2 separate regions of the Homo sapiens genome follow, and region 1 is linked to region 2. Evidence: fine-mapped expression QTL. A gene starts in region 2. The other region holds a variant in brackets. All regions are shown on one strand. Distances are between the middles of the regions. Region 1 overlaps ZNF154 (zinc finger protein 154). Region 2 holds the start of ZNF776 (zinc finger protein 776).

Region 1 (15,957 bases), 45 kb before region 2:
AGCCTCCCAAGTAGCTGGGACTACAGGCGCCCACCACCATGCCCGGCTAATTTTTATATTTTTAGTAGAAACAGTTTCACCATATTGGCCAGGCTGGTCTCAAACTCCTGACTTTGTGATCCTCCTGCCTTGGCCTCCCAAAGTGCTGGGATTACAGGTGTGAGCCACCGCACCCAGCCACCGTGGTCAATTTCAAACTGCCATATTGATGTCACTGAACCTGGAGTTGGGAAGAATTTCTGGTAACACACCTTTGTATTCTGTTTCCAATACACTGGTAGAGTATCCAAGATAGCCAGAAGAATAAAGACGACAATAAAACAGTAAAATGATCAGGAAGTGGCAAGTTTTAAATATTTGTTTTTTAAACAATTTTATTGAGATATAATGGACTTAAATTGTATGGGTTTTTATCTTTCACCTTAGAAGGGATTCAGTTGTATATTTTTAAAATATATATTTTGATGTTTTTATACATCGTACATTCCCAAAACCAAATGTTTCTTCCAGCCCTTTTCAATTTATCCTTTGCAACATATAAATTACTGATAGAAGGACATATTCTGCCTTTTGTAGGGGCTATTTACAAATGTCCATCAATGGAAGACATCATTATAAAACCTGATGAACCCTTTCCCAGTCTTCTATCATTTATCTTTTTTTATTTTTATTTTTATTTTTTTTTGAGACAGGGTCTCGTTCTGTTATCCAGGCTGGAGTGTAGTGGTGGATTTATCATTTTGTCATTCTCTTTTTTTTTTTTCAGCATAAACTATCAAGCAATTCATGGTTGTTCTTGTTTCATCTGTCCCCATGTGGATTTATAATCAGATATTTCGTTAAAGGCATAAAGTCTTCAGATTGCATTTCTAAAATTTAAAGACCGTTTCGTAACTATAAGATTAACATACAAAATAAAAATTGTATGTGTACAAAATTATAAATGTTTTATATACAGTACTGAATTGTATCAACTGCTGCTTATTTAAGACAGATTGCTATCAGCATACAAAATATATTTGATGTTTAGTAGGTGTGTCTTTGAGTTTATTAACCTATACGTACTGCTTACTTCTTTAATATTTATGTAACGTTGCTAAACTGCTTGTCCATTAGCTTCCCACATTGTGCTGGGCGCAGTGGCTCATGCCTGTAATCCCAGCACTTTGGGAGGCCGAGGCGGACGGATCACGAGGTCAGGAGATCGAGACCACGGTGAAACCCCGTCTCTACTAAAAATACAAAAAATTAGCCGGGCATGGTGGCGGGCGCCTGTAGTCCCAGCTACTGGGAAGGCTGAGGCAGGAGAATGGCGTGAACCTGAGAGGCGGAGCTTGCAGTGAGCCGAGATCGTGCCATTGCACTGCAGCCTGGGTGACAGAGCGAGACTCCGTCTCAAAAAAAAAAAACAAAACGAACTTCCCACATTGTTGATTTGGCTTATTAAATCTCAGATTCTGTTCAGTGTGTTCACCGCTCACTCCGCCCCCCATTCCCCAGTATTTCCTGTATACTAGATATTGATGAAATGAGTGATTAAGATCTGTTCCAAGTGGACAGGTTTATGTTGGTGACAAACCTGGAAACACAGTGTGCCTTTTGCTACCACAACATGAGCAGCCTGGAAATAAACATTACAGGTATTGTGTGTGCTGGTTGTGAGACAGGTGTGCAGTAGTGACAGCACATCCTAGCAAGATACACATACATCTGTGGCATACATTGACAGATGTAGGAAACTGACACCCCCCAGCACAGCCTGGAGCCATTTGTGTATGCCACATCCGCAACAGAAAAGATGTATGACAAACCTGAAACACACACACAGGTATGTGCAAAACACGCAAGGATCCTGTGAGACGGGATGGAGATACTGACACACCATAGCAGTCTCCACAGAGACTTGTGGGACGGACATATGCTAGGGATACCCAAAAATCTGATATGTGGGGCCAGGCGCGGGGCTCACGCCTGTAGTCCCAGCACACTGGGAGGCCGAGGCGGACAGATCACAAGGTCAGGAGTTTGAGACCAGCCTGGCCAACATGGTGAAACCCCGTCTCTACTAAAAATAGAAAAATTAGCCAAGTGTGGTGGTGCGCACCTGTAATCCCAGCTACTCAGGAAGCTGAGGCAGGAGAATCACTTGAACCTGGGAGGCGGAGGCTACAATGATCCGAGATCACGCCACTGCACCCCAGCCTGGGCAACAGAGCAAGGCTCCGTCTCAAAAAAAAAAAAAATCTGATGTGTGGGCCACAAACACAATTGCACTATCTTTGTGGGGCAATTGTGATGAGGCAGGCACAACCTGATGTGATACTACTACTCCCTACACACATCACTGCATACTAGATGATGTACTGATGAGGGAACTGGTTCATACCCCAGCACAACCTGGAAATACACGTGTGAGCAGGTTTGACCTAAGCAGGAGAATAGGATGTTTATGGGCTTTATAGGAGGGCTCAGCCAGATTCAGCCAGTTTCAGAAGTAATTGGTCAAGTACAGGTGGGAGAAGGAACACTCTAGGGGATTAGTACTCATTGTCTGTCATTGATTTTACACAGGGCTGGGGAGGAGCAGTTGGGACTAAGGACACCTGCTACAGGGGTTGGGAGGCAAAAGCCATGGGTACAGAGACGCGCGATGGTCACGCTGGACATTCTCAGTTCTTCATCTTCTCTCCCAATGTCTGCAGTAGTGACTGATAACTGAGTGACAGTTCAGTATGGTGTGGAGGAAGCATCCTATGGTGGTGTTTAGATGGAAGACCGAAAGGACCCCAGGAATGAATCATTGCATGGGGTTGTGAGAGAGCGATGTGTTTGGAGTGACACCAGGGACCCTGTTGGAGGTGTTCAGGCAGTGGCAATGCTGACCATGGGAAGCAAGTTTGTGGAGAAGGACTTGAGGCCCCAGGTGGCAGTGTCCCAGTGTGGTTACTCATGTTCTGGGCTTAGCAGACTTGGCAGAGAGGAATCTGTCCAGAGTCTCCTGCATTTCCAGTCAGAGGAGTAAAGGGACCAAGGCAAGCCAACCCAGTTCAGCGTAGACCTCAGCTGCTTGTGTGAGAAACACACTCACCCATCCAAACCCAAAGAATGGACTAAAAGACACGAAGAACAGCGAAAGTGAGACTTTCAGTAACAGTCTTGCAAGATCAGGGGACTGGTGTAGGCAGGCATATCTAGGGTAGTCACAACAGGTAATTTATCTCCTTGCTTGCAAGTCCCTCCTCCAAGATACTCATTGGTCCAGTACTATGAGGTTACAGTCTTCCCAGATGTCGTCTAAGTTTCATTATCCCCCTTATAACGTTAAACCCCGGTCCCCTTCCCTGCTTAAGTTTTGATTTCCAATAATGAAACATTCTTCCCTTTCATGGCCTGACCCCTCCTCTACATTCTGTGTACCTATTGTGACCTTCTAGATGCATGAGCTGTGTGGTTTGTTACATTTGCAGGCTGGCTGCCAGTACTTAGATTTATCATGCCTTGAAAATGGGCTATTTAAAATATTTTCCCACCCTTGGCAGCTGTGGTCGTGTATGGATGTTGCTTGCCCTCTCTGAACTGCAGATACATTAAGAGACAGGAATGATCATTCCTCTCTACTCTTTTTGGGGGGAAGAAGGAATAAGTAAGGAGGTAATCCTTAGGAAGTGGGTCAATATTAGCTCCACATGAAAACAGTAGTCTTGGCCAGGCGCGGTGACTCACGCCTGTAATCCCAGCACTTTGGGAGGCCGAGGTGGGTAGATCACCTGAGGTTGGGAGTTCAAGACCAGCCTGACCAACATGGTGAAACCCCATCTCTACTAAAACTACAAAAATTAGCTGGGCGTGGTGGTGCACGCCTGTAATCTCAGCTACTCTGGAGGCTGAGGCAGGAGAATTGCTTAAACCCGGGAGGCGGAGGTTGCAGTGAGCCGAAATTGTGCCATTGCACTCCAGCCTGGGTGACAGAGGGAGACTCCATCTCAAAAAAAAAAAAGAAAAAGAAAAAGAAAGAAAAGAAAGTAGTAGTCTTGATTGTCAGCATCCAGGGAAATGTGCAAACCATTCTCGTCTCAGCCTCCTGAGCAGTTGGCACTACAGGCGAACACCACGATGCCTGGCTAATTTTTGTATTTTTAGTTGAGACAGGGTTTCGCCATGTTGGCCAGGCTGGTCTGAAACTTCAGGCCTCAAGTGATCTACCCTCCTTGGCCTCCCAAAGTGCTGAGATTACAGATGTGAGCCACTGTGCCCAGCCGGAATTCCTTTTTTTTTTTTTTTTTTCCTTTTGGAGACGGAGTTTCTTGTTGCCCAGGCTGGAGTGCAGTGGCACTATCTCAGCTCACTGCAACCTCCACCTCCCAGGTTCAAGCAATTCTCCTGCCTCAGCCTCCTGAGTAGCTGGGATCACAGGCATGTGCCACCACACCTGACTAATTTTGTATTTTAGTAGAGATGGGGTTTCTCCATGTTGTTCAGGCTGGTCTCAAAACTCCTGACCTCAGGTGATCCGCCTGCCTTGGCTTCCCAAAGTGCTGGGATTACAGGCGTTAGCCACCGAGCCCAGCCTCTTTTTCCCTTCGTTTTATTCTAATCAACCACTGAGGTTCAAAGAGGGTCTCTAGTCACTAACCCAGCCCCGCCCCAGCCCACTCAGCCCCTGTCCCTGGTGTGAGCCACCGCGCCGCCCAGCTGGAATTCTTCAGAGTAGAAAAAAGGGAAGGCTTTAGGTGTGCTAATTGGAGTCTGTGGGTCTGAGGAAGCCGAAGGCAGGCTAACTACAAGTAGGGCCTACTCTGTCATTGGTTAGGGACACATACTTGATTTCATCCATTTGTTCTTAAATTGGAAAGGGAGACAAACATTAGAGAAGCTGTTAGTCAAGTCCTTGACAGGGGTTGTTGGGGACTTTCTCAAGGTCACTTCCTTGGGAAGGAGTCCTTCAGAAATTCACACTGAGATCTCTGGACTCTGCAGCCAGTGCTTCTTCCAAAAATTCCATCCAAGTAGAAGCTGTGGGGTCAGGGGGTTCTAAGAAGCCCCATTTCTCTTTCTCTTGTACCTTAAGACCTGCCTGGATCAGGTAAATGATAAGGCATCAACTCACTAGGTGCTGGGGATAGTGCTCGGCCCTGCTTACCACCTGCCTACCACACCTTTTGCCAGGATCCCAGAGAGTACTGTGAGCACTCCTATTCCACAAACATAAAACTGAGGTACCAAGAGGCTGCAAAACCAGCAGAGTCCTGATGCTGGGCAGTGGCAGAGGAGGGATTAAACCCAGGCAGCAGAGGGAGCAGAGGGCCTGGGGCAGCCAGGCACCGGAAGTGCTGCAAGCACCAAGACCCAGGGTGGTAACTTGCAGGGGGAGGCCAGAGCATGAAGGCAGAGGGAGGTTTTGGGTGCAGCCTCCAAGTAGGGAATGGACAGTTTCAGTGTTGAGGCAGAGTGGCAAAGACAAGAGACCCACAGCACCCAGGAAATCCCTCAGCTATAAATACAGTCCCTCAGCACTTTTCACTCCCCTTCCCAAGGATACTATCATCACCCTCTCCTCACCTTGGAAAGAAATCAGGGCTCCAACTAGAGCTGCCTTGCTGGAAGCTCGCACTGTCCTGTCCCGATGTATCATCCAGCAGCCCCAAGGCAGCTCCCCTCATTATCCTCTGTCATAAAGATATGATGTTTGCTTTTCCTCTAGGTAAAGCCAGTAAGGTAATAGAGCATCACCTGTTAGGATGAACTATGTGTGACAAATGGTGCTGTCAAATTCGTATTTGAGGACTTGTTGTTGTTTATCTTGAAAACGTGTGTAATGGGCTACATCTGCTAGGCCATATGAAGGAGTGAGGCTTTTTTCTTACCTTGCAATTTCTTAGTGGATTGTCTGTGATGTGCATCACATTCTGGTTTAATGCTTAATAAAAGCGTTTTCTGTCTCTACCTTCGTGGAGAGGATTTCTGGGTTGGGAGAAGGTTTTGTATTTATTTCACTGTTGCCATCACACACCTGTCTGCTGGGACAAAATCTCAATCACCGATTTCATCAACATCTAGTGTACAAGTTAAACAATGTTAGAGATTCAATAAGCCACATCTAGAATACAGCAAATTCTAATTAAAAAATGACTCAGCAACTTCAAGAAATAAGAAAACAAAGGTAAATGGAACCTGTAGGTTACAGACTTATGAGATACAACTACTGAAAGCTATTAAATATACATTTGGATCCTGAATAAAAATGATCTTCCTTAAGAAACACATTGTTTTAGACAACTGAGAAAACAGAAGCGATAAAATATTTACATTTTAAAATATATTTGTGTGATTTTTTGGGGGGTTATAAAAGAGCCTTTACATTTTAAAATTGCATTCTGAAGAGGCTATGCATTAAATAATATGATATCCGGGAGTATAAGTAAAATAACGCACTAGTACACATGAGGACCGATGAAACATAAATGACTATGAAATGATAAATGGTGAAGGAAAAAAAAATAGTGAAGGAAGACTGGAGAAAGGTTCATCTGGCTTCATAACAGTCTTTTCCATCTTTTTTTGTAATTGAACACAGCTGTAACAGGAGACAAAATATGTCATTGTACCAGTAATTTTACACAATGAAAATTAATTTTATATGTTGAGAATGAACTAAAAAGACAGAAGGAAACTGCGTTCCAGGGTGTAAGCATGTATGAAAATATCAAAATATGCATTTTAAATATAAGCACTTTAAGTTCCATTATACCTCAAACTACTTTAAAAAACTACTCAAAATATCCATAACAAATGAATGAATGAATAAACGAATACTGGTATATCCACAGAACATCATACTTCTCAGCAATACAAAAAAAAGAAACTACTCATAGAGGTATAATGATGAATCTCAAAATAAATACGTGACTATACCCAGGGATTAAAAAAGAGTAAATACATTATGGTTTCAATCATATAAAATTCTAGCAAATGAAAACTAATGTATTATAATGGAAAGTAAATCAATAGTTGCCTATAGGCAGATAATTATTAAAGGACAATGAGGTAACTTGTGGAATGACACGTTCATTGTCATGATTGTGAAGAAACAACTTCTTCCTAATCATTTCACTACATTTTATTTTCTACATTCTTGAGGTTATTCGTGGCCACTGTATCAGTATGGTAGAAACAGAATATATTAGGATGCTATCAGCAACTCTTCCCAATTCTACATTCAGTAACATGTTGGCAGTTTCAAAATTGGCATGGTGGGAGCAATTACAGGTTAATATGAATATCAAAGCTGATCAAATTATATAGTTTAAATATGTACCATTTATTCTTATTAAAATTATTATCAGGTTAGTGCAAAAGTAATTGCCGTTTTTGCATGTTGGATTTTGCCATTTTATATTGGAAAACATTCTTAAATAAATGTGGTTATACATCATTTTAATAGGCATTTCTCGCTTTATGTTTTTTTGCTGACTTACTACTTGCTGTTTATGTTTATTTTAGACTATGGAAATGTTAGACAAAACTCAAATTTCAGCGATTTTTTTGAGATAGAGTCTTGCTCTGTTGCCCAGGCTGGAGTGCAGTGACATGATCTTGGCTCACTGCAACCTCCACCTCCCGGGGTTCAAACAATTCTCGTGCCTCAGGCTCCCCAGTAGCTGGGATTACAGGTGCATGCCACTATGCCCAGCTAATTTTTGTATTTTTAGTAGAGACGGGGTTTCACCATGTTGGCCAGGCTGGTCTCGAACTCGTGACCTGTGATCCACCCACCTCGGCCTCCCAAAGTGCTGGGATTACAGGTGTAAGCCACCGCATCTGGCCTCTTTTTTTTGAGACGGAGTCTTGTTTTGTCTGTCGTCCAGGCTGGAGTGCAGTGGCGTGATCTTGGCTCACTGTGACTTCTGCCTCCCGGGTTCAAGTGATTCTCCTGCCTCAGCCTCCCAAGTAGCTGGGACTACAGGCACATGCCACCACGCCCGGCTAATTTTTGTATTTTTAGTAGAGATGAGGTTTCAATATGTTGGTCAGGCTGGTCTCTAACTCCTGACCTTGTGATCCACCTACTTCAGCCTCCCAAAGTGCTGGGATTACAGGCGTGAGCCACCGCACCCGGCTGAGATTTTCTTACTTGAGTTCCCAATGGGTCGTAAAGCAGCAGAGACAACTCACGATATAAACACATTTGGCCCAGGAACTGCTAACGAATGTACAGTGCAGTGGTGGTTCAAGAAGTTTTGCAAAGGAGACAAGAGCCTTGAAGAGAAGTAGTGGCCAGCCACTGGAAGTTGACAATGACCAATTGAGAGCAATATTAGAAGCTGATCCTCTTACAACTACATGAGAAGTTGCCTAAGAACTCAATGTCAACCATTCCACGGCTGTTCAGCATTTGAAGGAAATTGGAATGGTGAAAAAGCTTGGCTGGGCGCAGTGGCTCATGCCTGTAAATCCCAGCACTTTGGGAGGCCAAGGTGGGTGGATCACATGAAGTCAGGAGTTCAAGACCAGCCTGGCCAACATGGTGAAACCCCATGTCTACTAAAAATGCAAAACTCAGATGGGCGTGGTGGCGGGTGCCTGTAATCCCAGCTACCTGGGAGGCTGAGGCAGAAGAATCGCTTGAACCTGGGAGGCGGAGGTTGCAATGAGCTGAGATAGTGCCATTGCCCTCCAGACTGGGCAACAGAGCAAGACTCTGACTCAAAAAAAAATAAAAATAAAAATAAATCATGGTTCAAAACCACAGTTACTTTTGCACCAACCTAACAAAATATGGTTCAAAATAAAAGTCTGAATTTCCTATTGTTTTTGGAAAATCAGGTTTGACAACCCTATGTTGATTCCACCATCTCTCTCCTCATGTCCTGGGAGAGGATTTTGCCTCAGTGATCACAAATACAAGTGAACAGTGAAGGCCATTTCCACCTGACTCAACAGAAATGTTGGCTGGATCACAAAGGCTGTATCAATGGCCTAGACCTCCCTTCTCTATCCTTGTTTTCCTGCCTGCATAGCAATGACCTTGAGGTGAAAATCCCAGAGGCTACAGGATTCCATAAAATTTCTGACAATGACCTCAGCTACACAAGATACACAATTCTGTAGGTCCTGAGGATTTCTGTACCTGCTCATCCTTAAGAGCCATAATAACGAACATCATGGAAACCTCTGTAAAAGGGGCACATTCTATTTATTGCAGTGTTATTGCAGTTTTCCACTCTCTATCAATCCAGTACTTCTATAACAATTATAATTCCTACTATAATCTTACCACCTGTGGTGCTACCCTGTGGAATTCAGGATATCAAGGCATACAGGACCTGGGGAACAGATTTCCCCCACTGGCACTGAACACGATGCAGTATTCCTTGTGAACAAGAGAACAATTTCATGTTGCTTTCAGAA[A/G]CATCAAAGGATGTCAAGTAACTGCTGCCTCCTCAGGCTGACCTCTATGGCATCCAGGATATAAATTAGGACAATACCCTGTAGTTTTTTCTCAGAGGCCTTGAATAGCAATGAAAACTAGGCTCAAACTAGAGAGAGAGCTATATTCTGCCATCCTACTGTCCCTGTCCCTGTCCCTGTTGAGCTACACAATGTTTGGGATCTCCAAAAAAAGTTATTCACCCCTTCATGTTAGCAGAACCCAACTGTTTTCAAACCAACCCATACATATAGAACCCCCAAGATTAATAAGGCCTTTGTTATTGTACAAACCAAGGCAATAAGAGGCAGTTGGTTCCCACAGTTGGTGATTTGAAGGCTGGCAAACTCTATCAAGAGTCATGTGAGACCAACAATATCCTGAAATATGTAGTCCCTCTTTTCAGGTCACCAGCAGAGTCCTCTGGGCCAAACTGGGTCAGGTCCATGGCCTAACTCATCAGAAAGGAAAAAAAAAAAACGGAATAAATGCTTAGGCTATTTACAAATTCCTCCCATGAACAGAACACCAAGGTTCACTTACCTGAATACACTGGGATGGGTGAGTGGTGCACACTGGTGGTCACCTGCCAGGCAGTAGAGGTAAAATGGCTTCCACTATAGTATCAGCAGAGACATAAATCTGACATGGGCCCTGGGCAGGGCAAAAGGTGCAATGCAGTTCACACATACCTGGAATTTATGCAGATGTTCAGATATAGGATGTTCAATTCAGGCTGATGCCACCCTCATAAGGGATCTCCTTCAGAGCTGTTATATCAACTGGACATCCCTACATATCAAAAGTGTCTTTCCCTTGTGAACTGTGTGGCACTCAATGAGATATGGCCTTCAGCTGAAGCTTTCTGACATTCACTGTGTACTCAAGGACTTTCTCCAGGGTGCTAACAGATTTTCCACATTTGCCACTCATAAGGCTTTTATCGACTATGAATTCTCTGATGTTTAATAAGGCTGGAGTTATGGCTAAAGGATTTCCCACATTCCGTGCACTCATAAGGCTTCTCCCCAGTGTGAACCCTCCTGTGCTTAATGAGGCCGGAATTTTGAGTAAAGGATTTCCCACATTCACTGCACTCATAGGGTCTTGATCCAGTGTGAACTCTCTGGTGTTTTCGGAGACTGGAGCTGTAGGGAAAGAACTTCCCACATTCACTGCACTCATAAGGCCTCTCCCCAGTGTGAACTCCCCGATGTTGAAGGAGTGCAGACCTTTGGCTAAAGGATTTCCCACATTCGCTGCACTTATAAGGCCTTTCTCCAGTGTGAACCCTATGGTGTTCAATGAGGCTAGAGTTTTGGCTAAATGACTTCCCACATTCGCTGCACTCATAAGGCCTGGATCCACTGTGAACTTTCTGGTGTTTTATGAGACTGGAATGATATGTAAAAAACTTCCCACATTCACTGCACTCATAAGGCCTCTCCCCAGTGTGAACTCCCCGATGTTGAAGGAGTGCAGACCTTTGGCTAAAGGATTTCCCACATTCACTGCACTCATATGGCCTTTCCCCAGTGTGAACTCTCCGATGTTTAATGAGGTTAGACTTGTTGCTAAATAATTTTCCACATTCATCACATTCATGAGGTCGTACTGCAGTGTGAACTCTCCGGTGCTGAATGAGACTAGAGCTTTGCCTAAAGGACTTCCCACACTCTCGACATTCATAAGGCTTTTCTCCAGTGTGAAGTCTCCAATGGTCATTGAGACTGTAGCTTTTGCTAAAGGATTTCCCACATTCACTGCATATGTAACATCTTTCTGTAGTGAGGGTTCTCTGCTGCTGAACAAGTGTGTGTTTACCGCTGAATGCTTTTGTGTGTTCTCCACAGTTGTAATGAGTTTTTCCTCTGTGACTGATGGCCCCACCGTCGCTTTTGCTATTTGATTGCTCCCCAGTGTGAGCAGCCTGTTGATGGAGAAATCCCAACTTGGCCAGGAAGTCCTTCCCAACTTCTCTGCAGGTGGAAGGCTCCCCTGACACATGGAATGTGCAGGTCTTCACAAACAAGGCTCTGCCCACATTGCTTCTGAAATGTTTTTCTCCAAGGTGCTGCTTCTGATGATGAACATCTGCAATGAAATACAATTATTTCCCACATGCCCCACCTCTATATAATTTCTGCCTATGATGTGTCCCCTAGGGCCCAGCCAAGAGCAAAATGTCTCTCAAGACCAGGCTACACGTCTCACAGTGGTGGGCCTTCTAGGGAGAAAGATCTGCCTTAGAAGTCCTGAGTTGGGTCACTCCTTCTAAAGAAATGCTCTTGTCAGAAGGTGCCTCCTCATCCACCACTCTATGCCAAAAACCTAAAAGCAAGAAATGCTAGTGAAGTGCACATTAACTATGGTGGGAGGGGGCAGCCCTTATACAAGTGTGTGTATGACAAACCCAGGAACAAGTCCATGGGATCGTTTGCATGACAGTAGAGTTGGGTTCAGTTGCAGATGAGGCTGTTTAGCAATTCTAGGATAAAGATTACAAGAATGGGCCGGGTGCGGTGGCTCACATCTGTAATCCCAGCACTTTGGGAGTCCAAGGTGGGTGGATCACAAAGTCAGGAGTTTGAGACCAGCCTGGCCAATATGGTGAAACCCCGTCTCTACTAAAAATACAAAAATTAGCTGGACATGGTGGTGGGTGCCTGTAGTCCCAGGACTCAGGAGGCTGAGGCAGGAGAATCACTTGAACCCGGGAGGCGGAGGTTGCAGCGAGCCAAGATTGCACCACTGTACTCCAGCCTGGGTGACAGAAGGAGACTCCGTCTCAAAAAAAAAAAAAAAAAAAAAAAAGATTACAGGAATGTGGGAGATCTCAAGAGGTAAAGGCCACAACCATGAGGTATCACAAAGAGAGAGGCAGGGTCTAAAACTAAATCCTCTGCAAACAACTTTAGCAGAAGCTTATCTGCTGGCGACACATGAGTGCTATGTAGAATAGTATATGCAAGCCCATGGAAATACGACTGCAATGCAGCAGCTGGCCTTCAAGGACTGTTTAAGAGTATGTGCAAGGACAGGCGCAGTGGCTCACACCTGTAATCCCAGCACTTTGGGAGGCCAAGGTGGGTGGATCACAAGGTCAGGAGTTCAAGACCAGCCTGGTCAAGATGGTGAAACCCCATCTCTAAAAAAATACAAAAATGAGCCAGGTGCAGTGGCATGCGCCTGTAATCACAGCTACTCAGGAGGCTGAGGCAGGAGAATTACTTGAACCTGGGAGGCAGAGGTTGCAGTAAGCCGAGATCATGCCACTGCACTCCAGCCTGGGTGACAGAGTGAGACTCCGTCTCAAAAAAAAAGAGTATGTGCATACCTCATGACACACTATATAGAGGCTAACGTTAGAAAGAACTGCAGGTGTAGCAGTGAGAAAAACAGATAAGATACGGAGTCCAGAGATGTGAGGATTAGCCCCAGGCTGGATGTTAAGAGCAGAAGTGACAAGTAGTAGAGCTGACTTGTCAGCAAAATGTCAAGAATGGTGAAGGGAAACCGGAAGTGAGCTGTGACCACTGGCATTGGCACCAAAATGCTCGCCAAACAGAACAGGTTGCTGCTCTGATACAGCATCTGGATAATGTAAGTACTAAGGGAAGAAAGAACAGAAGAGCAGCCTGCACTGTCCCACAAAAAACTCAGCACATGACAGCCCACAGGAAAAACACACACACACACAAATACTACAAAGAAAATTTCAGAGGAATACTTTGTAAGAAGAGTCCATGGTCTACATAAGTAGTGACCATGTCAGTGACAATAACTCCTGGCATAGGCAGGCATAATGAAATGCCAGCTCGGGATGGAAGTAGTAGCTGGGGCACACAGGATCCTCAAATCTGGAAAAAGTCACCCAGACATGGAGGGGACAATCAAGGTGGGATCCACTAGGGTGACTGCAAGACTGCAGACTCTGAATCCTTCCCTGTGAGGCTGTGAGGAAACAGGTACTGGGGCTCCTCAAGGAGAGGAGAAGACAGTATGCACACCTTAGTCTTACCAATGACAGAACTATGCAGGGAACTGAGAAAGAAGCAGAGCCCATAGTCTTGTCATGAGAAGGACAGACCTGCCTATAGAGAAAAGAGGAAGGGCACAGACTAGCTCAGGGCACAGGAAAGGGTAAAAGAACCTTACCTAGAGAGGTTAAAAGAGCCAAGTTCTCCAGCATCACATCACGGTACAGGCATCTTTGAGCCTCATCAAGGAGACCCCATTCCTCCCAGGAGAAGTGTACGGCCACATCTTCAAAGGTCACAGTGCCCTGCCACAATGGGAACAGATGAAACCACCAAGAGCCCCTATCCCAAGGACCCACAATGCATACCCCCACATCTTTACCCCATGCCCATTCTCTTCCCAAGCTCCCCAACTGAGAGGAGAAACCAGCACATGGATAAATAGGCATCTAAGCTGGGGGCCTGGCATGGAAGGATCCATACTATCCCATCATGAAATCCCCCTGAAATGTCCAAGGTCATCTAAGTCTCAATACCAGGGCCCTGCAGCTGTCACTTACTCCCTTTCCAGATGCACATCATTCTTCAGAATACACATCCCTCCTATCTCCAGACACCACAGCCCCAAGCCCAGGGCTGCCACCTCACTGCCCACACCATAGGCATCTCCCTGCTCTTACCTCCCATGTCACTGTTTTAATCTCTTCCTCTTTACCCCATTAGCGAAGGCAGGATTGCCACACTAGGGTTATGGATATGGACAAACACACAATACCTGACACTAGAAAGACGATACAGCAGTTGGGTATGGTGGCTCATGCCTGTAATCCCAGCACTTTGGGAGGCCAAGACGGGTGGATCACGAGGTCAGGAGTTCAAGACCAGCCTGACCAATATGGCGAAACCCCATCTCTACTAAAAATACAAAAATTAGCCGGGCGTGGTGAAGCACACCTGTAATCCCAGCTACTCAGGAGGCTGAGGCAGGAGAATTGCTTGAACCCAGGAGGCGGAGGTTGCAGTGAGCCAAGATTGCGAAACTGCACTCCAGTCTGGGCGACAGAGCGAGACTCCGTCTCAAAAAAAAAAAAAAAAGAAAGATGATATAGCAGTTTATTAATCATATGTACATAGAACCTGGGAGATGAGGACAACATGTACCACACAGGGTCACATGGGGGTCTAGTCCAGAAAAAAAGTGAATAACCAAAAACTGTGGGATGCAAGCACTTTGAGAACAAAAGGATCAACTGCCCCCTGGTTCCCACAATGGGCTTGTTTGGAAAACTCCATGACCTGGTAGGGAGCTGAAATCTGCTACAAAGTGATAGGCAGAAATTGTGCCTGGTCTCCTTGATTAAAAGGGTTGTCTGTTTGGGAGAAGAGTAGGGAGGGAAACTTGTACTCAGGCCATTTGATGCCACCCTGATTTCACCAGATGTCATACTGGGCCTTAATTTTAGACTTTACACCATAACTTAGCACACAGCGTCCAGAGTATGCTCGACAGATTCAAACGGATCTAATACTACCCTAGATCTCCCAGGGCATCCACTAGTGGTAGCAGCCCCAAATCCTATGAGGGCTCCCTGGCTGGCTCCATTCTTTGCCTCAGATTTAGGCCACACAGAACCACATGTGCATCTCAGATACCCATGGCCCTATTCCACTTCCGTGCTGCACTTGCTAGCCCCTCAGCAGTAACAACCTTCCTCTGTCCACTTAACACTCAAAGACTAGCTCCACTGATCACCTACCCCAGGCCAAGTGACTGTCACAGATGACCACATTGGCACCTGGCCTTATCCTCCAGGTTGAATAAACACCCTAGGCCCCATCAAAGTCATCAAAAAATCCTGGTGATTCCACAGAGTGCTGAATAAGCACAAAGGAAAAAAAGGACAGCCATTTGCCTCAAATACACCTATGCCTCTGCATCCACCTTATATCCACTCTTCCCTTGAAAGTGTATGCCACCTGCCCAACTATCCTCTCCAAACACCCTACCTCCATAGCCACTAACCTCCCTTACCTCTGTTTAGAAAGCCCAAGAATATCACCCACTTATCCAACCAAAAGGCTTGGTCCTTAGCCCCCATTCTGCCCTTCCTGGCCAAATAACCTGTACCACCATGCCTAAAGATTAACCCTTGTAGGCCGGATGCGGTGGCTTACGCCTGTAATCCCAGAACTCTGGGTGGCTGAGGCGGGTGGATCACCTGAGGTTGGGAGTTCAAGACTAGCCTGACCAACATGGAGAAACCCTGTCTCTACTAAATAAATACAAAATTAGCCGGGCGTGGTGGCGCATGCCTGTAATCCCAGCTACTCGGGAGGCTGAGGCAGGAGAATTGCTTGAAGCCGGGAGGCGGAGGTTGTGGTGAGCCAAGCTCGCGCCATTGCACTCTGGCCTGGGCAACAAGAGAGACACTCCATCTCAAAAAAAAAAAAAAAAAATAGAACAACCCTTCTAAATGTAATCCACAGCTCACTCACCTTAGTCCACACAATGACCACCACATTTTGGATGTCTCCATTCTGAAGCACTCC
Region 2 (16,231 bases):
GTGGCAGGCACCTGTAGTCCCAGCTACTCAGGAGGCTGAGACAGGAGAATTGCTTGAACCCGGGAGGTGGAGGTTGCAGTGAGCCAAGATCACGCCACTGCACTCTAGCCTGGGCAACAGAACAAGACTCTGTCTCAAAAAAAAAAAAAAAAAAAGGAAAATAAAATAATAAAGATTAGAGCAGAAATAAATGAAACTGAAACAAAGAAAACAATACAAATGTGTTCAACAAAATGATTTTTTTTGTTTGTTTGTTTTTTGTTTGTTTTTTTTGAAATGGGGTCTTGCTCTTATCACCCAGGCTGGAGTGCAATGGCAGGATCTCTGTTCACTGCAACCTCTGCCTCCTGGGTTCAAGCAATTCTCCTGCCTCAGCCTCCCAAGTAGCTGGGATTACAGGCACCCACCACCATGCCCGGCTAATTTTTGTATTTTTAATACAGACGGGGCTTTGCCATGTTGGTCAGGCTGGTCTCGAACTCCTGACCTCGTGATCTGTCCACCTCGGCCTCCCAAAGTGCTGGGATTACAGGCGTGAGCCACCACGCCCGGCCGAGAAATTGGTTTTTTGAAAAGTAAACAAAATAAAAAATCCTTTAGCCAGACTAAGAAAGATAAACCAAATAAAATAGAAGTGAGAAAGAAGACTTTACAGCCAATACTGCAGAAATTCAAAGGATCATTAGAGGCTACTATGATCAACTGTATGCCAAAAATTGGAAATTATAGAAAAAATGGACAAATTCCTAGACACATATAACTTACCAAGATGAATTATGAGGAAATCCAAAACCTGAACTGACAAATAGCAAGCAATGAGATTGAGGCTGTAATAAAAATTTTCCCAGCAAAGAAAAGCCTGGGACCCAATGGCTTCACTACTGAATTTTACCAAACATTTAAAGAACTAACCCCAATCCTACTCGAACTATTCCCAAAAATAAGAGGAGGAGAAAATACTTCTAAATTCATCATACAAGGTTGGTATTACCCTGATACTAAAATAATTTTTTTTCTATTTCCATTTCAATAAGAAATAAGAAAAAGTAAAACAAAGACATATTTGAACCTAATATATTCTTCAGTGATATCATTCCTTTACTGTAAGGAATACTTTTTTTTTCTTTTTTCTTTTTTTTTGAGATGGAGTCTTGCTCTGTCACCAGGCTGGAGTGCAGTGGTGCGATCTCGGCTCACTGCACCCTCCTCCGCCCAGGTTCAAGTGATTTCCCCTGCCTCAGCCTCCCAAGTAGCTGGGACTACAGGAGTGCGCCACCACGCCTGGCTAATTTTTTTGTATTTTAGTGGATACTGGGTTTCACCATGTTGACTAGGATGGTCTCGATGGCCTGACCCCGTGATCCGCCCGCCTCGGGCTCCCAAAGTGCTGGTATTACAGGCGTGAGCCACCACGCCTGGCCGGAGTACTTGTTTTTCAATACCACAGGAGCTATGAGCTGGTCCTCCATTTTGTATCAAAGAATGTGTCCCCAGGTGACAAGATGCAGATTCCAAGACATTGAATCAATATGATGCCACCATCGCTTTCTTTCTGTTCTATGACATCTTTCTAGTCTTACCTTACTATTTCCTTGGCTCTCAGTTGGTTTTTCCTGAGTTCTCAGAAATTGAAATAATACACACTTTGTAGAAATAAGAATTTCATGTTAGTCAAGTCTCTAGGATAGCCATGGGCTCCACTTAATTATCTCAGAACTTACAGCCCCATGTCCTCTGCTCACTATCCATTGAGATTTATGTGTTCTCAGACTTCACAGAAACTTTTCTAGCTACTTATGTCATTCTCAGTGGTAACTTCATTTATCCACAATATTAACTAATTTTCTCAGTCCAAGCTGTTTTCCAGAGGTAATCTCCAGTCCCCATGCCGAAACTATCATTGTACTTACTGCTGAAATGATAGTTCCTTCCCAGCAAGAAGGTGAGATTATTGTACCCAGAATCTTTTCTCAGGGTTCAAATATCCACTTTCCCCATGGCAGGAATGCTGACACTCCAGCCACGGTTTTGTAAATGTGAATTAGTAAATACCAACTATTCCCAGGTGAGTGTTGTGGGCAGCAAGCTACCCAGGTGCTGAGGCAAGAGACCGAGGGCATGAGCCATTCCAGTATAATAAAATATATAAAACAACAAGAGTTATACTAGATCTAGATCATAGATGTAATTATATATGAATATCATTAATCATTAGTTTGTAGCAATTACTCTTTATTCCAGTATTATAATAATACTCGCTCTATAATCATAACCTAGAAAAAACCAGGCCATACAGAGATAGGAGCTGAGGGGACACAGTGAGAAGTGACCAGAAGACAAGAGTGCGAGCCTTCTGTTATGTCCAGACAGGGCCACCAGAGGGCTCCTTGGTCTAGCGGTGATGCCAGCATCTGGGAAGTCTGGTCTAGCGGTAGCCTTAGTGTCAAGGAAAAACAACCGCTACTTAGCGGACCGGGAAAGGGAGTCTCCCTTTTCCCCGGGGGGAGTTTAGAGAAGACTCTGCTCCTCCGTCTCTTGTGGAGGGCCTGACATCAGTCAGGCCCACCCGCAGTTATCCGGAGGCCTAACCATCTCCCTGTGATGCTGTGCTTCAGTGGTCACGCTCCTAGTCCACCTTCATGTTCCATCCTGTACACCTGGCTCTGCCTTCTAGATAACAGTAGCAAAATTAGTGAAAGTACTAAAAGTCTCTGATATGCAGAAATAATGGTGTAAGCTGTCTCTCTCTCTCCCTCTCTCTCTCTGCCTTGGCTGCCAGGCAGAGAAGGGCCCCGCGTCCAGTGGACACATGACCCACATGACCTTACCTATCATTGGAGATGACTCACACTCTTTGCCCTGCCTCTTTTGCTTTGTATCCAATAAATAACAGTGCAGCTAGACATTCAGGGCCACTACCAGTCTCCGCGCATTGGTGGTAGTGGTCCCCCGGGCCCAGCTGCCTTTTCTCTTATCTCTTTGTCTTGTGTCTTTATTTCTACACTCTCTCGTCACCGCACACAGGGAGAGACCCACCGACCCTGTGGGGCTGGTCCCTACAGAGTGTTACAATCAGAAGGAACCAGTTCTGCTCTGAGGTTGAGACATACTCTGAGGGACCTGGAGACATGGTGCAACCTCCTCTCCTTGCCTTATGCCTCTCCTCTATATTTCCTCTGAAACCTTCTTTGAATATTCTTCCTTCCATTACTGACTGAAAATATTAAGCCTCACAAAGTCCACTGTAAGATCTTTACCAGTGGGAAATGAAGAAGACTGTTTAAAGTATTTGAGTGGCCATTTAGTGTCTTTATAACATTTTTTGGTTATGCATTTTTGTCTTTTTGGGGGCATGATTTGCAAATTGAGTCTCTGGTATTTTACTAACTTGTGTTTGATGAGTGAAAGAGTTAATACTTCCTCTCCCATTAGTGAAAGGAAAGACACTTCAGAAACATGAATAAAAGATTGTAAATTGGAAATAGTAAGGTAATCAGATATGTAAAGAATCTAGGCCAGGCGTGGTGGCTCACGCCTGTAATCCCAGCATGTCAAGTGATTCTCCTGCCTCCACCTCTCTAGTAGCTGGAATTACAGGCACCTGCCACTACGCCCAGTGAATTTTTGTATTTTTAGTAGAGACAAGGTTTCACCATGTTGGTCATGCTGGTCTAGAACTCCTGACCTCTGGTGATCCACCCACCTCGGCCTCCCAAAGTGCTGAGATTACAGGCATGAGCCACAGCGCCCAGCTTCCTGACATCGCTTAATGCATAATCTCTTCACAGGGTATTTCCAAAGTCCAAGGGCTCTTTCATAACACCTACAACTGGTTCCATCAGAAATGTTTAAAGCATAACAAAATATGTTATCATCGTCCATTTTTTCTATTGTCTCAAAAATATCTTTGTTCTTTAAGCAGCTTCATTGCAATGAAATTCCCAAATGTGGGCGTGGTGGCTCACGCCTGTGGTCCCAGCACTTTGGGAGGCTGAGGCGGGTGGATCATCTGAGGTTGGGATTTTGAGACCAGCCTGGCCAACATGGTGAAACTCTGTCTCTACTAAATACAAAAATTAAAAAAAAAAAAGAAAGAAATTCCCAAATTTATCCCCATGACTTTTAGTAGTTCTGTCTCATATATCTCTATTAATCTACAGGTATGACTTTCCTTTTTAAAATTCCTTTTTTGTGCGGGGTGTGGGACAGGGTCTTACTCTGTCACCCAGGCTGGAGTGCTGTGACACAATTACAGCTAACTGCAGCCTGGACCTCCCTGGGCTAGGTGATCCTCCCACCTCTGCCTCCCAAGTAGCTGGGACTACAGGCAAGCACCACCATGCCTGGCTAAGCTTTTATTTTTTATTTTTTGTAGAGACTGGGTTTCACAATGTTGCCCAGGCTGGTCTCAGACTCCTGGGCTCAAGCAATCCACCTGCTTTGGCCTCCCAAAGTGCTGGGATTACATACATAACCACAATGCCTGGCCTTAAATTTTATTTTATTTTTTTATTTTTTTTGAGACGGAGTCTCTCTCTGTCACCCAGGCTGGAGTGCAATGGTGCAATCTTGGCTCACTGCAACCTCCGCCTCTCAGGTTTAAGCAGTTCTCTGCCACAGCCTCCCAAGTAGCTGGGATTACAGGCGCCCACCACCACGCCCGGCTAATTTTTGTATTTTTAGTAGAGACGGGGTTTCACCATCTTGGCCAGGCTGGTCTTGAACTCCTGACCTCATGATCCACCCGTCTTGGCCTCCAAAAGTGCTGGGATTAGAGGCGTGAGCCACCGCGCCTGGCCAAAATTTTATTTATTTCTTGAAATTGTGTAATTTTTGTATTAGAATTTATTATACTCTAATTTTTTGTGCATATCTCTGATATGATTTAAGTTGTTTACACATGTATAAGCCATAAGCAAACTAGATATTCTTGAAATGGGTGATTCAGGGGTAGTCCCACATAAGTGTGTGATTATGACACAGCCAGAAACACACAGTTGGATTACATTCTCCCAGCATGCTGTGGTACAGTCTGGAAGCAAAAATTTCAAAGAGTGTATGCTCCTGGTGTGTGACAAGTGCCTGAGGGTTATACTGCAGCACAGCCTATAGACAAAACACATATCCCAGGGACCCTGTGTGACAGGTGTGCAGTATTTAAAGACCTCAGTCCGGCAGGGCACGGTGGCTCACGCCTGTAATCCCAACGCTTTGGGAGGCCGAGGTGGGTGGATCACGAGGTCAAGAGTTTGAGACCAGCCTGGCCAACATGGAGAAATCCTGTCTTTACTAAAAATACAAAAATTAGCCATGGGTTGCGCTCACCTGTAGTCCGAGCTATGCGGGAGGCTGATACAGGAGAGTTGCTTGAACCAGGGAGGCGGAGGTTGCAGTGAGCCAAGATCATGCCACCACAGTCCAGTCTGGGGAAAAGAGTGACCCTGTCTCAAAAAAAAAAAAAAAAATCTCAGTCCATCCTAGAGGTGCCCCTGTTATACCTATAGGACTCTGTGTAAGAGGCATTGGGTACTGGCACCTATTGACAGCCTGAGCCGACATAAATATATACCACACTGACAACAAACCCAAGAGGGAGAGATGTGATCCACACAACCAGCATATTCAGAACCCCAAGGGGCTGTTAGACAGAATGGAGGTGGGGTCATACTGGCCACACAGAAGCACAAATGCTACTCAGAGACTTGGGCTTTTAAATTTGCTGATTACAAAGGTTTAGTGGGAGCATAAGCAGGGTATAATCAAGAAAATTTTACTCCACAATAGATAGAAATATACCTTCCAGTGTGTGTAGTCATAATATAATTGGAACACACAATTTTAAACTTCTAGACATTACTGTAGAGTCCTATGTTGATTAAGAATCATCACAGATATTTCTAGAAAGAAGAAAGCAAAATATTACTGATAGTGAAGATGAAATATGCCTATATAACTTGCTGTCATGCAAGGTAACATTTAGGTATTGAGATTCTTTACATCCCTGATTACATTGCCATTTGTAATTTATAATCTTTTATTTACATTTCTAAAGCATCTTGCTTTTATGTGCCTATATATCATGCTGTCATACAAGATAACATTTAGAGGCCAGGCATGGTGGCTCATGCCTGTAATCCCAGAACATTGGGAGGCTGAGGCAGGTGGATCACCTGAGATCAGGAGTTTGAGACCAGCCTGACCAACATGGAGAAGCCCTGTCTCTACTAAAAATACAAAGTTAGCCAGCTACTAGGGAGGCTGAGGCAGGAGAATCACTTGAATCCAGGAGGCAGAGGTTGCAGTGAGCTGACATGGTGCTATTGCACTCCAGCCTGACAACAAGAGCAAGAAACTCCGTCTCAAAAATAACAAAAATGAGAGATATCAGGATTATAAGTAAAACAGCATAGTAATACACTTAAGAATAGATAATCGGTCAGATGTGGTGGCTCATGCCTGTAATCCCTGCACTTTGGAGAGCCGAGGTGGATGGATCACCTGAGGTTGGGAGTTGGAGACCAGCCTGACCCTTTTTTTTTTCTAGTAGAGACAGGAGAAACCCTATCTCTACTAAAAAAAAAAAAAAAAAAAAAAAAACACACACAACCAAATTAGCCGGGCGTGGTGGCACATGCCTATAATTCCATCTACTCGGGAGGCTGAGGCAGGAGAATTGCTTGAACCTGGGAGGCAGAGGTTGTGTTGAGCCAGGATTGTGCCATAGCACTTCACGCTGGGCAGCAAGAGCAAAACTCCGTCTCAAAGAAAAAAAAAAAAAAAAAATTAGCCGGGCGTAATGGCACTGTAATCCCAGCTGCTTGGGAGGCTGAGCCCTGAGAATTGCTTGAACCCAGGAGGTGGAGGTTGCAGTAAGCTGAGATTGCCTCACTGCACTCCAGCCTGGGCGACACAGCAAGACTCTGTCTCAAAAAAAAAAAAAAAAAAGCCGGGCGCAGTGGCTCACGCCTGTAATCCCAGCACTTTGGGAGGCCGAGGCGGGCAGATCATGAGGTCAGGAGATCGAAACCATCTCGGCTAACACAGTGAAACCCCATCTCTACTAAAAATACAAAAACTTAGCCGGGTGTGGTGGCGGGCGCCTGTAGTCCCAGCTACTCGGGAGGCTGAGGAGAATGGCATGAACCCGGGAGGCTGAGCTTGCAGTGAGCGAAGATCACGCCACTTCCTCCAGCCTGGGTCACAGAGCGAGATTCCGTCTCAAAAAAAAAAAAAAAAAAACAAACCACCATGCAATGATAAATAATAATGGATCATTGAGGAAGAATTCATGGGACTTCATTACATAGTCCTTTGTATTTGTGTATATATTTGGAAAAATCCATTACAAAAGGTACAATATGTTCTTGCATCAATAACTTTATACAGGCATACTTTGGAGATAGAACAGGTCAATTTTTTTTTTTTTTTTTTGAGATGGAGTCTCACTGTGTTGCCCAGGCTGGAGTGCAGTGGCGCGATCTCGGCTCACTGCAACCTCCACCTCCCGGGTTCAAGTAATTCTTCTGCCTCAGCCTCCTGAGTAGCTAGGATTACAGGTGCCCCCACCCCCGCCACCATGCCCAGGTAATTTTTGTATTTTTAGTACGGACGGGGTTTCACCATGTTGGCCAGGCTAGTCTCAAACTCCTGACCTTGTGATCTGCCTGGCTTGGCCTCCCAAAGTGCTGGGATTACAGGCATGAGCCACCGCGCCCGGCCGACAGGCTTCTTTATCCCATAAATATCTCTAAATCCCATCATCAAAGAGGCAGATTTGAGAACTGTTCTCCCACCTCTGCACTTGGCAGCCTTGTAAATACATGCTTTCTCTGCTGCAAGACTCATCATCTCAGTGATTGGCATACTGTGAGATGGACAGAACAGGCCTGGTTCTATATCAATAGTGTGGAGGAATTGTTTCATTTTATAGACCAGTATCGTCAGCTTCCTCAGGAACCTTTACTAACATGGATAGTGAGAATAACTAACTTAGGGGAAACATCTTTGGTTTTAAATAATGCAGAGTGGAAGAACATGTTTGGGTTGATGTAGTACCTACAGGTCACTCTTCAACAATTGCAGATAGGTATGTATCATCCACACACACAAGAGTTTATTCCTGAAGGAACAGCCAGCCTGGGTGGGTGTATAAAAGCTACTCTGAAGTCTGTCTACTCGGAAAAGCGGGACTGTCTGACTCCCCCTATAAATGCCAAGTGGGGCTCCCCAGATGAACCAGCTTAATATGCTTCCCATGCAAGCCATGTGGAACTGGCATTATGATGATAGGAATATTTACCTACTGAATATGTTTATTACCCAGGTCATGGTAAATGTCTTGGTTTGGGGAACCCCATTTTCTTGGGCACCTTATGTAAACTTACTGCTGCAAAATTGAGCTATAGTCAGTCTTACCAAATTTGCTTCCTATTATGGGCCTTTCAGATGCTAATAAAACCATTAGATTAATTAATAAGATAGACAATGATGAAAGGTACAGGGGAGAGTCAAACAGCTCCTTCCAGGAAGGTAGAAATTTTTAAATAGTTATAAAGAAATAAGACAAATAAAGAAAACATGGATAGGAATGAAACTAAGAGGAAAAAGAAAAGGGGGAAATCATGATACTCATCCCAGCATGGTGGAAATCTTTAGATGGCTATTAGATGGAAATTAGATGAATAAAATAAAAACTGATCGGATTAAAACAAAATTCTGAATATAACACTATTGAAGGTTGGGTGGACCAAAGGAAGTTCCTGTTGATCCCCCAACATTAAAGGGCCTTAAGCTAAGTTGCTGTAGTTCCTGAAGTTTGGATAAATTTTAAAAGCCAGAAGGTAAAGATATAATGAGAAACCCCACCTGGAATGCCTAGGGTGATGGTTAGACTGGTTAATCAAGGTAGCACTTGGAAAAAAGGCCAAAGTCTCCTGGCCTGAACCCTGGGTGGAAACCTGAAGACATCTGCACAAGAAAGGGTAAAATGGTCTGGAGAGAAGAGTCCTGGGACTACAACATAAAGTAAAAGTTGACAGGACTATGAAAGTTGGAATGTTAAACATGCTTTTTTTTTTTTAAGTTGTACTACCAATAAACTGAGTTCTTTCCCTACTTTGTATTGGTCACAAAAAAAAGAACACCCAATTTGGGAAAAAAAAAAAAAAAGGCAAGCAAGTTTTATTTCTGAGCAGAAATGGAGAATGAGTAAGCTCTTGCTCTAAATGCCTCTTCTCCCTGAACATAGAAGACATAGGTTTTTTAAGAACTGAGCGGCTGGGTACAGTGGCTCATGCCTTTAATCCCAGCACTTTGGGAGGCCGAGACAGGTGGATCACCTGAGGTTGAGAGTTCGAGACCAGCCTGACCAACATGGAGAAACCCCGTCTCTACTAAAAATACAAAATTAGCCAGGTATGGTGGCTCATGCCTGTAATCCCATCCATAACATTAATTTATTAGGCAAAACACTCCTTGCCATGGAAACAGAAATAAAGAATAGTCACAAAAAAAAAAAAAGAAAAGAAATAAATAAAGTCTGTTTTATCTAATACAAAAAAAAAAAAATAGCCACTTCCCAGCAATAACATGAACTCCTGGATTTAAGACACAACCAATATCAACAGGTGGAGAGCATCTTCTGCATACGTGCCCCACCTTTGAAAACTGCAGCCATTTATCACTACCAAAATAGCATTTCTTTCATTGGTCTTCCTGTAAGATTGATAAATCTTAGATAAATTAATCCAGAATTAATTGAATATAAGTTGGAATCTCAAGCGAGGGATACTAAGTGGATAAAAGTGTTGCTCAATGTACTGGACACTATGATTGATTTTATAGGCAGGAGAGTTGTCTTCTGTGGGAATCACAGACAGAGATTCAGCATGTATTCCTGCTTTAGGGAACACAACATTTCTCCTCTATCTTCCTTGTCTTGTCCTATCTGGATTAGTTCTCTCTTGTCCCTGACAGACTGAGAAACTGACTCTAATGCCTCAGAGTGCATTCATGTGAATTTATAACACAATAATGTTTATCAGCCTCTGCTGCCAGTACCGGGATTTTGCGACTGAAAGACTGTTCAAAACGTTATGATAATTTGGATTTTTAGTCTTTGGGGGCATCCTAAATAATAAGTTTAGCATCGGAGAGCTCGAGTTCCCCAAAATCTAAAATAATATTTTTTCAAATACTTGAGTGATCAGTTACAGACACTAATCTCCAAAAATCTCAATACGGGTTCTAAGGCTAGGTGAGACTATCCTCTACCCTAGAAGGACATGCACTTTAAGGACAGGCCGCTGAGATGGAGCTGGGCCTTTCCTGCAAGTAAGTGAACGTGATGGTAGGGTATACCTGACAGCATAGTTTGACAGGGGATATAGACTTTCAAGGAGAAAATAGACATGAAATAGATACATGCAGAAGTATAGTCAAATTGAGGGAAGATGACACTTAGGCCAGAGTAGTGTTTATTCACCACTCTGTGCAATCAAGCGCCTCTGAGAAGGCCTTCTTTACCGCCTTGGAACTGTCTTGGAACCTGAGGAAACTACATAACCCAGAAATCTCTGCGTCGAATGACAGCGCGTCAGAGCCAATGAGGGCTCAAAATAAAGGCGTTTCCGCGGAAACAGTATAAAGGTGGGACTTCCGGCGTCCTCTACTAGTGGCCATTTTGATTGGTGTTGGGTGTATTTTCCAGTGAGAGACCGCGGAGTGTTGGGTCGTGTAGAAGTGACTGAACCCAGAAGGTGGAGACGAGACGTTGTCCCGACTGCACAGAGGCTGCTCTGCAGCTCCTTAAAGGCGCTAGGCGTGACCCGCACCAAGGCCGGGATCGGGACCACCGTGCCCGGGTACCTGCACTGCTCGCCCCCTCCTTTCGACCCCGCTTTCCCCACCCAGTCGGATGGCGGCGGCCGCGCTGAGGCCCCCGGCTCAGGTAATTGTGGCGTCTTCCGTGCCCTCAGGTCACCTCATCTTTACCTAAGTCCAAAAGCAGAGAGGAAGCGGCGCCTGCTCAAGGTTTTACACCCTGAACCCGGCGTCGGGACACTGAGGCGCTCTCTATGGGCCCCCGTTTTTGACACCCGCGGGATGCGCTCAGGAGAGCTACAGGCACAGGGAGCGGTGCAGGCAAAGGCCTGGAGATGAACTGAGCCGAGAGGATCGTAACCTAGGGTCCACAGGCACCTGTCGGGAGCAAAGTGTGAGGCAGAGCTCCTCCTGGAAGAGCAGGCTGAGGACCGTGTATTCACCCTGAGAACGCTGGAAGCCATGGACAGCTTCCAACAAAGGAAGGAAAAGATCAATGTCCAGGCTTTAAAGGTTTCCCAAAGTCCAGTCGAAAAAGAACACAGGGGATGACTTTTGGGCCCTGGGAGGTTGAATTCTTGTTCAACCTCTACAGATCAGATAGGTGCTAAGAGATGACATTTTGTACTGAGGCGCTCAGTTCAGACAACCAACTCGCGTTTACCTAGTTACAGGGCCAAGAAAGAGTTCAGGGAGGCCTGAGCTTATCAAATCTCATCAGGGATACATTCTTGTAGCTTGTGCCTCTCCTCTCAGGAACTCCTGGCTGCAGAAGCACTTGCAGAACCTCCGCAGGGAAGCGGAGGGTGTTATTCCCTCACTGGCCCTAACTCCTATCCACATGCTCTTTAGATTGGGATGTCCTGGGATTCTTAGGTACCTTTTTTTTTTTTTTTTTAAGTTTTTTGATATGGGAACCCTGGAGGAACCTTAAACCCAGGATCCAAAGTCTGTGACACAGGATATATGGAGGTATTCCCATTTCTGTCAACCAGTATAAACATACTTGGAAGGTTAACCCAGGAGTTAGTACCAGGATGTGAAATGCTTAGAGGTGAAACTGACCAGAGGGAGGAGGTGATGTTGCCACAGTTTCATCTGGCTGTAGTCTCCTCTGGCTGTACAGTGGAGAACAGACTGTGGGGTTGAGAGAGGAGGAAATAAGATGAGAGTTGAGGCTTTTGCCGTAATCCAAGTGAGGGTTAACAGACTAAGATTCATGGCTAAGGAGATGTGGCTGGATTCAAAGTTGATATTTTGTTACAGCATCTAGGTTTCCTAATACACAAAGTAAGGGCATGAAGAGAGCAATCAGGATCCCGAGGTTTTTGGTCTTAGTAGCTGTAGCTATGGAAGCTGCATCAGCTGAGATGAGCATGTTGGTAATAAACATAATTAGAATATTATGCAAATATCAGGATGACTGTTATGGCCATATGAAGAGTCAGAGACGAATAAGTGTAGGCATCAAATGGCTATGGACATGCAGGTTGGGGTATCTGGAAAGGGATTGACACTGGAGACATCTAATATATGGTAGCTAATGTGTATGCTATGGTGAGTGAGCCATGGGTCACATTAAGGAGAACACACTTCAGATTCTGGTGGTAAATCTTTTAGGGGACCAGAAAGCAGTGGTTGAATGATGAGGACTGCATCTGTTGCTTGGGTCCCTGGGTAATGTTACTGGGCTTCCTAAACACTGGAGAGGTAGGTAAGTGACCATGATGGTAGGGTATACCTGTCAGCATAATTTGACAGGGGACATAGACTTTCAAGGAGAGAATAGACATGAAATAGATATATGCAGAAGTGTAGTCAAATTGAGGGAAGATGACACTTAGGCCAGAGTGGTACTTATTCACCACTCTGTGCAATCAAGATTTGAGATGACTTTGGTAGTGTGTGGGGGGTTTCATTACACGTGCTGAATATGCTCAGGGAGAAATATGGTCATCTGTGACAGTAGGTCTTGGGCCTTAAATGGATTAAAAACAGGACTTTTTTTTTTTTTGAGACGGTGTCTCACTCTGTCGCCCAGGCTGGTGTACTGGTGTATAGTGGCGCAATCTTGGCTCATTACAACCTCCACCTCCCAGGTTCAAGTGATTCTCCTGCCTCAGCCTCCCGGTAGCTGAGAATACAGTTGCGTGCCACCACGCCCCACTAATTTTTTTTTGTATTTTTAGTAGAGATGTGATTTCACCATATTGGCCAGGCTGGTCTCGAACTCCTGACCTCATGATCCACCTGCCTCAGCCTCCCAAAGTGCTAGGATTACAGGTGTGAACCACCATGCCCATCCAGGACTGCTCTTTAAATGGCAATGGTATTAGGTGAATGGAAGTTGGTCCGTGTTGCTGAAGGGTAAGCCATTGTAGCACAGAAGTGGAATAAGACCATGGATATCTGAAGTTACATGTGGTTTTGCATGGATGTGGAGTAATGCAAGGAGGCATTCATAGAATTATTAGGGACTACCACTGCTAATGGGAACCATGGTCATTTTGTGTTATTATTGGATCCTGTTTGAATATGTGAAGCATATTGGATGCTGTCAGCCATATTGTGGTATAAAGCCAAAAATGGAGGCCCAATATGATGTGTCACCTTGACATCTAGTGATATTGGTATGACCTCAAATGACCTGAGAACCAATTCCCTTCCCACTAGGCTCTTTTAGATAATAATCAGCATGGCCTAATAATCCTTTTATTAGGGAGACCAGGCAGAATTCCTGGTTATTATACTTTGTAGTGAGTTTCAATTTTATCCTTACCCACAGTGTTATTCAAACAAGCCAGTTGCATCCTCCTAAGGGATTCGGGGGTCATCACACCCTCTTCATTTTAAAAGCTTGCATATCATAGTTTCTGGTTATGCACTCTTATCCATAGTGCAACCCCTATGTGGTCCTTCATGATGAGGGATGTCCTCTTCTAGACTTTGAGTGTATTTGATTTTTAAACATATTTATAGCACCTGTCTAGTGTTTGATGTCATGTGTTTGGTCATTAATATAACTGTAAGGTGAAAATCTCACCCTTACTGGTAGAAGGAAGAAGAGGGTATAAACATACTTTAACTTGTGGGGAGGCAGAGGCCAATGTGGGAGGCAGTTTAGTGGGGGTGGCCATGGGCATGTGTCTGTGCAGTCTAAAGAATGATGTGTATTTTGGCCTAGCACAGTGGCTCATGCCTGTAATCCCAGCACATTGGGAGGCTGAGGTGGGTGAATCACTTGAGCTCAGGATTTCGAGACTAACCTGGGCAACATAGTGAAACCTTCTCTCTACCAAAAATACAAAAAAAAAAAAAAATTAGCCGGCACGGTGGCATGCACCTGTATCCCATCTACTCGGGAGGCTAAGGCCAGAGAATTACTCGAGCCCAGTAGACAGAGGTTGCAGAGAGCTGAGATTATGTCATTGCACTCCAGCCTGGGCAACAGGAGTGAAACCCTATCTCAAAAAAAAAAAAAGCAAAAAAAAGGAATGATGTGTATTTAGAGAAGGAGTATGTCTGATAGACTGAGGATGCTGCATTGGGATTTACATGACTTCATCTCTACCAGGGGCATTGGCTATCAGGAAGTTATGGACCGCTTTATATCAGCACCAAAACATAGAAATCTATTGTTTCACCCACTTCTTGTGGCTGATGGCTGTACACCATGACCAGTGAGCCCATGAGAAGATAGTGACACCAGTGGGCCTAGTTTCTCCTTGTAGTTTAGGACCTTGGGAGGAGGAAGGGCAAGGGTGGATAAGTGGATGAGCATATGGAGTGTTTGTGGTTTCATCTGTCATCATCACGGCAGGGCACTGTGACCTTTGAAGATGTGGCTGTGAACTTTTCCCAGGAGGAATGGAGTCTCCTTAGTGAGGCTCAGAGATGCCTTTATCATGACGTGATGCTGGAGAACCTGACACTTATATCTTCTCTAGGTAAGGCACTCACACTCTTCTCTATGACCTCAGCTATTGTCTGTCTGTCCCCATCTTTTTTCCCCATGGCAAGACTGTTTTCCTCACTTCAGGAGCCTGGGCACAGGTTCCTCTGTTAGTTCCCTGGGTAGGTTCTATGTGGTATGTAGGACTGAGGTGTGTGCACTGCCCTCTCTCTCCTTGAGCAGCCCCAACACCTGCTTTGCTGCAAGCTCCCAGAGAAGGAGCTTTACAGGCACCATAATGCATCCCACCTTGCTTGCCCTCTGGCTGTTGAGTAATTTTTCTAGATCAGAGACTGGTATGCACAGGTTCTACTTCCTTGCTCTAGGTGACATTTATTCATGACTGCCTGTGCTAGGAATTCCTCCCATCACTGATGTTCTCAATACTTACATGCACCATAGGTTGTTCTTGCAAGACCCTCCTTATAAATTATCTTGTTTGTTTTGTTTTGTTCTGTTTTGTTTTCAAAGTCTTAACTCTGTCACCCAGGCTGGAGTGCAGTGCTGCAGTCATAGCTCACTGTAGCCTCAATCTCCCAGGCTCAAGCAATCCTCCTTCCTCAGCCTCTAGAGTAACTCGGACTAGAGGCTTCTGCCATCACATCCCACTAATTTTTATTTTTATTTTTAATAGAGATGAGGTCTGGCTGTATTGCCCAGGCTGGTCTCTGACTCCCAACCTCACGTGATCCTCCCACCTCATCCTCCCAAAGTGCTGGGATTACAAGCATGAGCCAGTGTGCCCTGAGTATTTTTTGCTTTTTTGTTTTTTTTTTTTTCAGACAGGGTTTCACTGTCATCCAGGCTGCAGTCTACTGATGCAATCATGGTTCACTTCATTCTCAGCCTTCTGGGCTCAAGTAATCCTCCCACCTGACTCCTAAGTAGCTGGGACTACAGGAGCATGCCACCCTGCCCAACTAATTTTTGTTCATTTGTATTTTTGGTTTTGTTTTTTTTTTTTTTTTTTTTTTGAGACGGAGTCTTGCTCTGCCACCAGGCTGGAGTGCAGTGGCCCAATCTCGGCTCACTGCAACCTCCGCTTCCCAGGTTCACACCATTCTCCTGCCTCAGCCTCCCGAGTAGCTGGGACCACAGGCACATGCTGCCACACCTGGCTAATTTTTTTGTATTTTTAGTAGAGACGGGGTTTCACCGTGTTAGCCAGGATGGTCTCGATCTCCTGACCTTGTGATCCACCCGCCTCGGGCTCCCGGAGCTGGGATTACAGGCGTGAGCCACCGTGCCCGGCCTCATTTGTTTGTTTTGTAGAGATGGTGTCTCATTATGTTACCCAGGTTGGTCTTGAACTCCTAGGGTCAAGTAGTCCTTCCAGTTTGGCCTCCCACAGTGCTGGGATTATAGGTGTGAGCCACTGCACCTGGCCAAAAATTATCTTTGTAGTATTTAGTTTTCTTTCCTATGGGCTATCATGTGCTGATTTTTTCTGAACTGTTG

Evidence for each region. PIP is the estimated chance that this variant, and not a neighbour inherited with it, causes the effect.
Region 1: its variant is fine-mapped to the expression of ZNF776 in thyroid (GTEx, PIP 0.97).

The regions. Positions count from the first base shown.
Region 1 is chr19:57,691,268-57,707,224 of GRCh38, forward strand. ZNF154 (zinc finger protein 154) reads right to left here. Exons shown (of 3, transcript NM_001085384.3): 2 at 13,586-13,712; 3 at 5,008-11,521. The coding sequence ends at 10,368. Among named protein-coding and RNA genes, the nearest start is that of ZNF154, 10 kb to the right of the region's middle. The variant A/G (reference allele first, on the strand shown) is at 9,409.
Region 2 is chr19:57,736,144-57,752,374 of GRCh38, forward strand. ZNF776 (zinc finger protein 776) reads left to right here and starts at 10,672. Exons shown (of 3, transcript NM_173632.4): 1 at 10,672-10,948; 2 at 14,642-14,768. The coding sequence starts at 10,916. RefSeq lists an enhancer at 10,684-10,733.